Homo sapiens: one gene and its partners. The protein of the gene in region 3 purifies or fractionates together with the protein of the main gene of each other region. This does not show direct contact. Each region holds a gene or a part of one and is shown on either strand. Other genes may lie near its edges. The genes, in order: ANXA5, XRN2 and UNC13D.

What was found.
Region 1: the proteins of UNC13D (region 3) and ANXA5 fractionate together in Homo sapiens (co-fractionation; one large-scale study listed by BioGRID). This does not show direct contact.
Region 2: the proteins of UNC13D (region 3) and XRN2 fractionate together in Homo sapiens (co-fractionation; one large-scale study listed by BioGRID). This does not show direct contact.

What each region holds. Positions count from the first base shown.
Region 1 is NC_000004.12:121,672,847-121,676,498, reverse strand, and holds part of ANXA5 (annexin A5), read left to right. Parts: intron 1-3,652. UniProt on the Homo sapiens protein: This protein is an anticoagulant protein that acts as an indirect inhibitor of the thromboplastin-specific complex, which is involved in the blood coagulation cascade.
Region 2 is NC_000020.11:21,383,295-21,386,943, reverse strand, and holds part of XRN2 (5'-3' exoribonuclease 2), read right to left. Parts: intron 77-3,649; coding exon 1-76. UniProt on the Homo sapiens protein: Possesses 5'->3' exoribonuclease activity. May promote the termination of transcription by RNA polymerase II.
Region 3 is NC_000017.11:75,837,753-75,841,404, forward strand, and holds part of UNC13D (protein unc-13 homolog D), read right to left. Parts: intron 3,250-3,652; coding exon 3,205-3,249; intron 3,079-3,204; coding exon 3,010-3,078; intron 2,825-3,009; coding exon 2,755-2,824; intron 2,578-2,754; coding exon 2,473-2,577; intron 2,359-2,472; coding exon 2,266-2,358; intron 2,191-2,265; coding exon 2,087-2,190; intron 1-2,086. UniProt on the Homo sapiens protein: Plays a role in cytotoxic granule exocytosis in lymphocytes. Required for both granule maturation and granule docking and priming at the immunologic synapse.

The DNA of each region.
Region 1 (3,652 bases), on a different chromosome or scaffold from region 3:
TCCCTTTTATGGATAAAGAAACAAACCCATGGCTTCCACTGAATAGCAGTGGAGTTGGAATTCCTAACGAGGCCTGTCTGACTCCAAAGCTCTTTCTCTTTCACTAGAAGATAGTCAGTGTTATTGAATATTAATATTTCACTATAAGAATATTTCACTGTAAGATATTCAGTGTTCTTGAGTATTAGTGCCTTCCCTGATTTTCTCTATCATTAAAGGGCTTATTAAATATCAACTCAAGCATAGATCTAGCTTAATTCCACCTTCTTTCGGGAAGAGGGCTAGAGCAACCCTACAGAGTTGTACTCCTGTTAGGGGCTTTGTTCAGTACTGAGGTGATCTTACTGCTTTCCAAGCATTGGTTGTGGCTTTGCTAGGAGATAGTGCTGATTCTCTCATTCCTACTGTCAAGAGTAGGATAGGAGTTCTGGGAGCTTTTCAGGGTCACAGTGTAAGAAACCAACTCTAGTCCTCTCAGATGTCTGCAGTGAGGCCTGCATTCACAGGCAGAGGGCAGATTTCCCAGCATAGTTGGTGATGTAATGAGAGCATTGCTGCAGCACGAGGCTCCTGAGGGGAAAACAGTACATTTTAACCTTGTTTTCATTGATTTCTGTCCTTGGAGCACTTACTGGATAGCACTGCTGCTCAAACTTTCATGGGCATGTGGCGCACCTGGGACCTTTAATTGCAGATTCTGATTCTATGGGTCTGGGCAGGGGCTGGGAGTCTGGATTTTGAACATGCTCTCAGGTAATGCCTGCATTCTTGGTCCTTTGATTACTGAGGCTGTATAGGTGACACTTACGTGTCATGCAGTGGATATAACCATTCAGAACCCTGAGAGTACATGTGAGACTGTACATGTGAAAACTGCTTTATGGAGTTACTTTAAAGTATCCCTTGAATGGAATCCAAGCTTTTCTTAGCCTTCCAGTGACTAGGAGCAATACAGAACATGTTACACTGGCTATTATTTTTGATTCTTTCAAATGTATTATTATTAATTAATAAACCTGTTGAAAACAAATAATCTTTTGGCATTATAAAAAGGAACACACCAACTTGTACCTCGTAGCAAGGGCAGCTGGACTGTTATCACTAGTGAGAATTTGAGATTTCTTAATTGAGAGTAAGCTGAGACAGCTAAAGGGCTCTTTTATAAGCTTTTGCATTTTTGTCTCTACTGATACCTGGCACTAAGAAGATTTCTATTATTTGAGAGGTTTGATAAGCCATAGTGAGTCATTCACTTGGGAACTGAACGTTTTGTAGATAATCCACTTTTTAACATTTTTAATGTGTTAAATTGATTTAATACTTTTAATGCATTAAAACAGATTTACCTTCTTCCCCAGTAAATCCTTGTTTTATTCTTTCTCTGGAGGGAGAGTTGAACTCTTAGAGGAAAGAGGGAGAAGGAGAAGTAATCAGGCACTTTTTACTTTTACTGGGCATTTGCTACTGATTACCTGACACTGTTCAGTGCATTATCTTAGTTATATAATCTCCGTTAATGACTATATACACTGAGGCTGAAGAGGAGATTAAGTAGTTCATCTGAGATCTTGCAGATAGACCACATCTGTTTTGACTCCAAAGACTCATCCTTTGCACTGAACCAGGGCTTATGAAACTGTACTCAGGCTGAACCGTAAAGCTTAGGGAAGGGGTGTAAGGGTCCCTCATCCAGATGGATCCATGAATATTGGGCATCCTCATTTAGGAGAAAGGATACTTAGATTAAAACAAAACTGTTAAATATCATTGTTTTACATGAAGAAGCCATCATTATTATTGCATATGATTACTTAATAATAGTTTTACAGTAGATATTGATCCCAAACATAATTCTCCCAAGAAAATTAAAACATTGTGGTAAAAATAACTGACATCTCACCAATTATTCCCATATAACAGGCTTAACTCCTGTACCTACTAGAGAACATTTCTAGACATTTAAAACAGTTGATAAGAAGTGTGTGCATCAATGTCTGTGATATTGTACAAGATGAGTCCTTTACCCATTTAGGTGTTAATGTATTTGTATATTTTATCTACATGTAGAAACATACCAGAAGTAGTAACTAGCACCCTCAGGAAATTGATATTAAATAGCAACTTTTCTTTTCTTTCCTTTCTCTTTCCCCTTTCTCCTTTTTCCTTTTCTTTCCTTCACCTTTCCTTCCCCTCCCATTTCCTTACCCTCCCCTTTCCTTCCCCTCCCTTCTCCTTCCTATCCCCTCTCCCTCCCCTCCCCTCTCCCTCCCCTCCCTTCTCCTTTCCGCCCCTCTCCCTCCCCTCCCCTCCCCTCCCTCTTCCCCTTTCCTTTCCTTCGTGCCCAGGCTGGAGTGCAGTGCCATGATCTAGGCTCACTGCAACCTCTGCCTCCTGGGTTCAAACAATTCTCTTGCCACAGCCTCCCGGGTAGCTGGGATTACAGGCATCTGCCACCGTGCCTGGATAAGTTTTGTATTTTTAGTAGAGACAGGTTTTGACAGGTTGCCCAGGCTGGTCTTGAACTCCTGGGCTCAAGCGATCCACCTGCCTCAGCGTCCCAAAATGCTGGGATTACAGGCATGAGCCACTATGCCTAGCCTGCAACTTCTATTTTCTTATTTTTGTTCTTTCTTAGTTTTATAAAATTTCTCAATGAACTTGCGTTGTTTTTGTAATTAAATTTTAAAAGTTATTTTAAGAAAGGTCTGTGTCATCATGATATAGTTCTAAAGTTTAGATGCATGCATGACTTTCAGAGTTACTGTCTTTTCAGGTTTTAAGAGCATGTTCACATGGCCAGAATTGATATTATTCATTTTTATCTTTAAAATAATTAATTTTAAAATTGAGCATAAAGATACATGAGTCTCATTTTTTTCTTATTCTCCAGAAATATAATAAAAAATAGATCTTTACCACCATAATCTACATTTTTAAATATACTGTGATCAAAACTTCTATATTCAAGCCTGTTATTATCACTTCCTGTCTTTATTTGGATTGCTGCTTGTGGGTATAAGGCCAACTGCAAGTAGCAGCCTCAGCAAATTGCATTCATCTTGCTTTAATATGTAGACTTAGTTTGAAATGAATAAAAGGATAGTACAGTCATTGTAAAGGTTGATTCTTTGGGTTTTAATAAATTATTCTCACGTCAATAAGTGGATTCAGAGTTAACGTTGATGTTTGTATATAAGCTTATTTTTTTAGGCAGCTATACGTGCACAAGAAAGCATATTTTTTCCCCATGTCAAAAAGGAAGTATGGGCACTCAAACTATTCAACCACTACTTATTGAGTGCTTCTATATGCCAGGCACTGTGCTATACCCACAATCTTTTAAAAATTTATTGTGATCTTTGGAAATATGAAAACATTTTATAGCTAGCCTTGGTTAAATCTCAGTTGTAAAGAGAAAATATGAAGTGTACTTTTACTCATGTGCTATTGAACAGCTATAGAACAAGCAAAACAGAAAAGGCAGACAACTTAGCTTCCAGTTAAATCCTTTCCCAGTCTATACATGGATGTATCAACAGTGAGGTAGTCATAACTTTCTCCTGACCCATACTGTTGCTTCTGAAAGATTGGAGGTTATGGCAGACATTTTGGGAACATGTAACCTTGCACCATTGCCGTGCTTTGTTGCTTG
Region 2 (3,649 bases), on a different chromosome or scaffold from region 3:
CTGGTTTGGCTGGAAGGCTGCATTCTGGGTTTGCAGCATCCGGTTCCATGGGAGCAGAGGTTCAGCCCCAACGCCTCTGTAGGAAAGTACCAGTTTTACATCAGAAGCCACACCTATTATACAGCACAAAGCCTAAAATCGGCAGGTATCATCTCCAAATTTTAGTACAATCCAATTTACCTGGATTTATCATATGGGATACAGAGTATCAGAATGGCCTTTGTGTCCCTTATATCCAGTATAATCTAACATGTTTCATGAAGCATCAGCATTTATTACAATGGATGTTTAAACTCAACTGAGAAGTTCTGACTTTTAAAAGTTATTTTGTTCATTTTCAATTGGGAAATTTCCTTTTTAGTCACTTAAAGATGTAGACCCAAGATCACCAAGATGGCTACATTTAAGATGCTATCCAAAGAGTAAACATGTACAAGACAGGAGAATGAGGCTTTATTTTCAAAAATGTCCAGACTCGTTCTTGGATCCATTCTTTCTACTTAATTGCAGGTTGCAAATGAATTCTTACTGCTGAGTATTTTGAATCCAGGGTAGGAGACTTGGCTGTTTTTTCCCATCCATTATTCTGTTCAATATGTCAGAAGGTCTGATTGGGAGGAAACCTTTTCAAGTTCTATTGATGCAGCTTTCAATTGACCACGGTGACCTAGCAACATGAGCACTAATTGGCATGGGCTGACTGGCATTTGGTGTACAGTTTACATGGGAACACAGATTCAACGGCTATTATAACCCAGTTTGCTGTCGCAGATTACTAGTCGAAAGAAATGTTTTAATTGTCTTCAAGTGACTATTTTAACTTTGCAGATGCAAAGCAACAGGTATAATGTACTAAATCATAACTTAATTAAAAACTGTCACATAAACAATGTAGCAAGGATATACCTTCTAAAGGCAATCACCATTTAAGACTTTACTTTCTCCTTAAGGCACTTTCCATAACTTCTATTTTATGGAAGGCACTACAAAGAATAAACAGAGGCAAATGCTCCAGTATACTTGAACATCAGAAGCTTTGGGGCCACTGACCATGTTAGGAGGAATTCAATAAAACTTTAAATTCACTGAAGTGCTGACTAGCTGGTAATCAGTTATAACCATATCAGCATAAGAATTTCACTTCCGAGGTCTTAGGGGAAAAAAGCCCGGCGCTGGGCTCATTGGGTAAAGCATTCTTCTCACAGCTATTCAAGCCTGAATCCATCCTCTCTACCCCCACTCTCCTCCCTTCACTTGGAGCTTGCCTTCTTTTTATTAAAACAACACCAGAGATAATTATTTTTGTGTGATGATTCGAAGAAATGAACTGCTCTCTAAAGAACTCTAGAAAGGCTAAAGTTTTTCTTTACAGTTGGTAGCTGAAACCAGAGCTCTAATAACAATGTGTTATAAGTAATTCAGAATACAATTAAAAATAAGTTTTTATCTCAGAAAGAAAATGCATATGGCTAGGGCTTTTAATTATTTTTCAGGACAATTACTAGCACAAATATATTTTAGCAAGAATGCCTCCATCTGTTTTAGCAAGAAGAGCTCCGTGTGCAGAGATAGGAATGGTCTCTTCCAGTCTCTGCAGGAGTGAAGGGCTAAACTAAGGTTTGTGCTGTAACCAAAGTCTCATCAAAACTGGGCCAATTAATGCAAAACCCACGGGCTAAAAACACAATTCACATCTTAACTGTGATCAGTTTTTCTTTTGAGTCTTACAATAATAAAATTCAATTGAGTTTTAGGAAGATCTGCTGGCATAAATAATATACATTATAAATGCAATTCAAAACTATTTTATGTTCCAAAAACAGGTTAAGAACAAAGCCACAGTTTAAAAACGCAAAGTTCTTTTTGTTTGAATTGATTACTTATAATGTTTTTGACAAATATAATTTTTATGAAAAAAATCATCAATAATTAAAATTAAACAGAAGAACAAAGCAAGGATGTCATGTACTACCTTCTTCTGACTTTTATGACAGAAAGGCCTTTATTTTCAACAAGTTTATCACATGTCTAGACTAATTATATATTTTGCAAATACTTACAAAACTAAAAATTTGCCTAGGAAATTATGTTTTAAAATCTGGGATAGAAGCACAGAAACTGACATATCCTAAATTCTAAAAATTAGCAATTAGGCCAGGCACAGTAACTCAGCCTGTAATCCCGGCACTCCAGGAGGCCGAGGCAGGCAGATCACTTCAGCCCAGGAGTTTGAGACCAGCCTAGGCAACATGGGAAAACCCCGTCTCTACTAAAAATACAAAAATCAGCCAGGCATGGTGGTGTGGGAGCCTGTAGTCCCAGCTACTTGGAAGGCTGAAGCATCAGAATCACTTGAACCTGGATGGCAGAAGCTGCAGTGAGCCAAGATCATGACATTACACTCCAGCCTGGGTGACAGAGTGAGACCTTGTCTCAATCAATAAATCAATAAAAGAAGTTAATAAATAAGGCAACTTATTTGAGCCATTTGGCATCGTAGATAGCAACAATTTTTTTAAGTTTCCAAATTGTTTTGGAAAGTTACTGGAGATGTGAACTACTACCAATTTGAATATTTTAAATGTATGCATATGGTAAAATCGGAGTTTTATTTAAAAGATTTTTCATGATTGAGCTTAACACTCATAGGTAAAAAACTAAATGGCTGCCTTGCAAATGACTGAAAAAGAGGCCTCCATTGACAAGAAGAACCCAAACAATGTGGCAAAACTCAAGTGACAAAGGGAACTCCAATGCTGGGTATCTATTAACTCTAGGCTGTGTCTGTGTTGGGAGGATGTTCCTGTTGTATTTTTAAATCTACTGGATATATGGATTATACATACCATCTTAAAGTAGGAAATTATTCAAGAAATGCAATGTAATAAAAAAAAGACACTCAAAATTCTCTTAATAGGATTCTCAACAAACAGTAGCGTCGTGGAAACATACTGAACTAAGAACTGGTAAAACCTGGTTCTGGAACAAAATGGTATCTTTCTTAAATGTCTGTGATGTAAGACTTTTATGATAGAACTCTATTATGCTCACATTTACCTTTTGCTTTCAGGCATAATTTTAAGTATCTGACTAAAACTAAACCAAAAAACATTCCCACAAAACTTGTCACTAACCTGCTGGGTTCACAAAGTCAGAATAATACTAGTACTTGGCTAGGGTAGAATAAGAACAAAACCTGATGGACAGCAGGGTAAGGGAAGGGACAATGATGATGATCTTAGGAAAACTTTTAATGTGAACAGAGGGGAGGAAAGCTGTTGGGGCCTTAGAAGTGGAAACAGATCCTTTACTTCCTTTGAAGTCCCTACGTCTTTATATTACGCTCAGAGTAAATATTCTGGTAAGTTTTGTTCCAGTGAAAAGTTTCTTGGTAAAGAATGGCACAAAAGAGTGACCTTAGGTAAGCTGCTGAACTTCTCTGTGCCTCACTTTCTTCATTTGCAAAAATGTAAACATAACAGCATCTATTTCAATGCACTGCTAGGAGGAATAAATGAAATCATTCTTATTAAAGGATGTTAACACAGTGTTAACACTTTGTAAGCAGACAAACATTTGCCATTATTATTAGTATGGAAAGTGAGCAATAAGATAGAGAAACCAAGTATATAATTTAGGAAAAATTTAC
Region 3 (3,652 bases):
TCAAAAAAAAAAAAGAAAAGAAAAGAAAAATAGGATCTATGAACCTGAGCCTTCGTGCACATGTGGCAAGCATCAGTGAGAACTTCCTTTCAGATGGTTTGGGGGGATATCACACAAACGAGGTCCCGTGGGAGGGCAGAGGATGGGGGAGAGGAGCAGCCTGGGGACAGGCCGAAGTCCCTATTGGACACTGCAGCCACCTGCATTACTGTGCTTGGGCCCTGCAGGCAAACCAGGTCCCTCCCCATCTGGTGCCTGCTCCAGTCTCCAGCCGCACCACCATTCCACCCTTGTCTCCGAATCACCCACCTGCCTGAGGTCCTAGCAGTACACAAGCTGACCCCAGCCCAGAAATGCACTCCCCTGGGCTCCCTCCGCCTCCCACTCAGACTCCAAGTCACAGCCCAGGCCTGAGTCGGCATCCTGCTCCTGTTCCTCCCCTGGCCAGCACTTGGCTGTGTCCCATCTCTTTTTTTTTTTTTTTGAGACAGAGCCTCGCTGTGTCGCCCAGGCTGGAGTGCAGTGGTGTGATCTCAGGTCACTGCAACCTCCACCTCCCGGGTTCAAGTGATTCTCGTGCCTCACCCTCCCGAGTAGCTGGGATTACAGACATGCGCCCCCACACCTGACTAATTTTTCTATATTTTGTAGAGACAGGATTTCACCATGTTGGCCAGGCTGGTCTCAAACTCCTGACTTCAAGTGATCTGCCTGTCTCGGCCTCCCAAAGTGCTGGGATTCCAGGCGCGAGCCACCGTGCCCGGCCGGCTATGTCCCATCTCTGCCCTACTCACATGCACTGGAATGGCTGTGACCCCCTGTGCCCTCCCCGGCATTCCTAGGACTTGACGTGAGTTGCCCTCAACATAGATTTGTCCTTATCAGCGCGTAGTTTTGCTGAGTTGAAGGCTATGGCATTGGGAAGCGGGGCTGGGGTTAGGGACCGGGTCCAAATTCAAATGCCCAGGACTCAGGAGACGAAAGCAACTGAAGTGGGCCCAATGGCAGCCATGATGGGCAGAGGCACACACATCGCTCCGCTCTGTCCACTCAAAAAAGCAGCAAAGGCTGGGCGCGGTGGCACGCGCCTATAATCCCAGCACTTTGGGAGGCCAAGGCGGGCGGATCATGAGGTCAGGAGATCGAGACCATCCTGGCTAACACGGTGAAACCCCATCTCTACTAAAAATACAAAAAATTAGCCGGGCGCGGTGGCTGGCGCCTGTAGTCCCAGCTACTCGGGAGGCTGAGGCAGGAGAATGGCGTGAACCCAGGAGGCGGAGCCTGCAGTGAGCCAAGATCGTGCCACTGCACTCCGGCCTGGGCGAAAGAGCAAGACTCTGTCTCAAAAAAAAAAAGCAGCAAAATGGCTCGGTGCAGTGGCTCATGCCTATAATCTCAGCACTTTGAGAGGCCAAGGCAGGCAGATCACCTGAGGTCGGGAGTTGGAGACCAGCTTGACCAACATGGAGAAACCCCGTCTCTACTAAAAATACAAAGTTAGCTGGGCGTGGTGGCGCATGCCTGTAATCCCAGCTACTCGGGAGGCTGAGGCAGGAGAATCACTTGAACCTGGAAGGCAGAGGTTGCATGCAGTGAGTCAAGATTGCACCATTCCACTCCAGCCTGGGCAACAAGGGTGAAACTCCGTTTCAAAAAAAAAAAAAAAAAGCAGCAAAATGATGACCCTGCAGTTCCAGCACTTGTGTTTCATGAGAAGCTGGAGATCTGGATGGTATGTCAAATCTCCAGATAGCTTTTTCTAATATTTTTTGGAAATGAGGTCTCACTCTGTGATCCGGGCAGGAGTGTTGGTGTGATCATAGCTCACTGCAGCCTTGAAATCCTGGGCTCAAGTGATCCTCCTGCCTCAGCCTCCCAAAGTCCTGGGATTACAGGAGTGAGCCACCGCATCAGCCGAATCTCTAGACTTTTTAAAATTGGCAACTGATTCAAAACTTAAAACACACATTTTGGGCCAAAGGGAACTCTGCTGAGAATTACACTTTGGGCTACCGGCTTGGAGGAGGGCAGGGGGCGTGGGGGGCTGGTGGCTCAGGGGTTCTGCCCAGGGCTGTGTACTCACGCCATGGACTGGTGGAAGTCGGATAGGTCCTTCTGTGTGGCGTGCAGAAAGAGGACGGTGGCAGCCTGGGGACTCAGCGACCCGTCCCAGGAGGTGCTTCCCGCCTGAGGGGAGCAGGTGGAGGAGTGTCAGGACCTGAAGGGCAGCCCCGGCTGCGCCCAGCCCCAGGAGGGCAATACCTCGTGCTGGGTGACCTCGTGGGACACAAGCTGCTGCAGGAGGTGGAGGTGCACGGTGTAGCTCGGCTGCGAGCGGCTGGCCGAAGTGGCTCTCTGCAATGAGGCCTCTGTGAGCAGACAGGGCCTCACACTGGGTGCAGCCAGCCCCGCAACCCAGCAGACCGCCGCAAGAGCTGGGCATGGCCACTGGCCCAGTACCCGACCTACCCGCTTATGGATGAGTTGGAACTGGAGGTGGCACTGGCCTCGGTCTGGGTAGGTCTCAGTGCGGGGTTCCAGGGGGTACCACTGGTCCTCTCGGCAGCGCAGGTCCTGACAGGCGGGGATGCCCAGCCCGTGAGCGTCAGAACCTCATAGAGTCGGGGCAGCGGAGGCGACAGGAGGTGGACCCCAGGCTCAGCTTTGTGAGGACACAGAGCCTCTCCCCAGAACCCCTCCCAACCCCCTCCCTCTGCCTCGCTCCTGGGCCCCTTTCCTCATCCTCCTCACCTGCAGCCTCAGAACCACGTTCCCCAGAAAGTCGTCCTGGCCTTTGTCCTTCCGGGCCTCTTTAAAGATCCTGCGTCAGGCAGGGTCCCATAAGGGGGACGCAGCAAGGGTCGGAAGGGATTAGGCTGGAATCCACCCCCGGCCGCAGCCACCTGGACCCCAAAGGAGCCTGCACCCCAGCATCCAGTGTGCATGTTGGGGGATGGAGGGCAAAAGGAGCCCCAACCCCTTCCCTGTGAGCCCTGCAACACGAACCTGCGAAGCCCATGCAGATCCGTGAGCTCCCCAAGCTTCTGTCGGACAGACTCCACAGTGTCCAGGTCCCTGGCAGGACAGAGGTTTGAGAAGGAAGCAGAGAGAGTGCCTACGACCTCTTCCAGGAGGAGGTTCCGCCTCTCTCACCCCAGATCCCTTCCCTTCCCATCCCTAGGGGCAGGCCAGGTCACTCACCACATGTCCAGATGAAAGCTCGCATTGGTGATGTCCTCAAACTCCCTGTATGGAGAAAAGGGCGTGGTTGAGGGCCCTGGAGGGTGGATGCCCCCAGACGAAGCAGTAAGTGACCACAGCCCAGAGCCATGGAGTTGTAGCCTATCCCTGCCAAACTTCCCTCCTCCCAGCCGCATCCCTTTTTTTTTTTTTTTTTTTTTTTTTGAGATGGAGTCTAGTTCTGTCCCCCAGGCTGGAGGAGTGCAGTGGCAGGATCTAACTCACTGCAACCTCTGCCTCCTGGGTTCAAGCAATTTTCCTGCCTCAGCCTTCCAAGTAGCTGGGATTACAGGTGCCCGCCACCACACCTGGCTAATTTTTGTATTTTTAGTAGAGACGGGGTTTCACTGTGTTGGCCACACTGGTCTTGAGCTTCTGACCTCGTGATCCGCCCGCCTAGGCCTCCCAA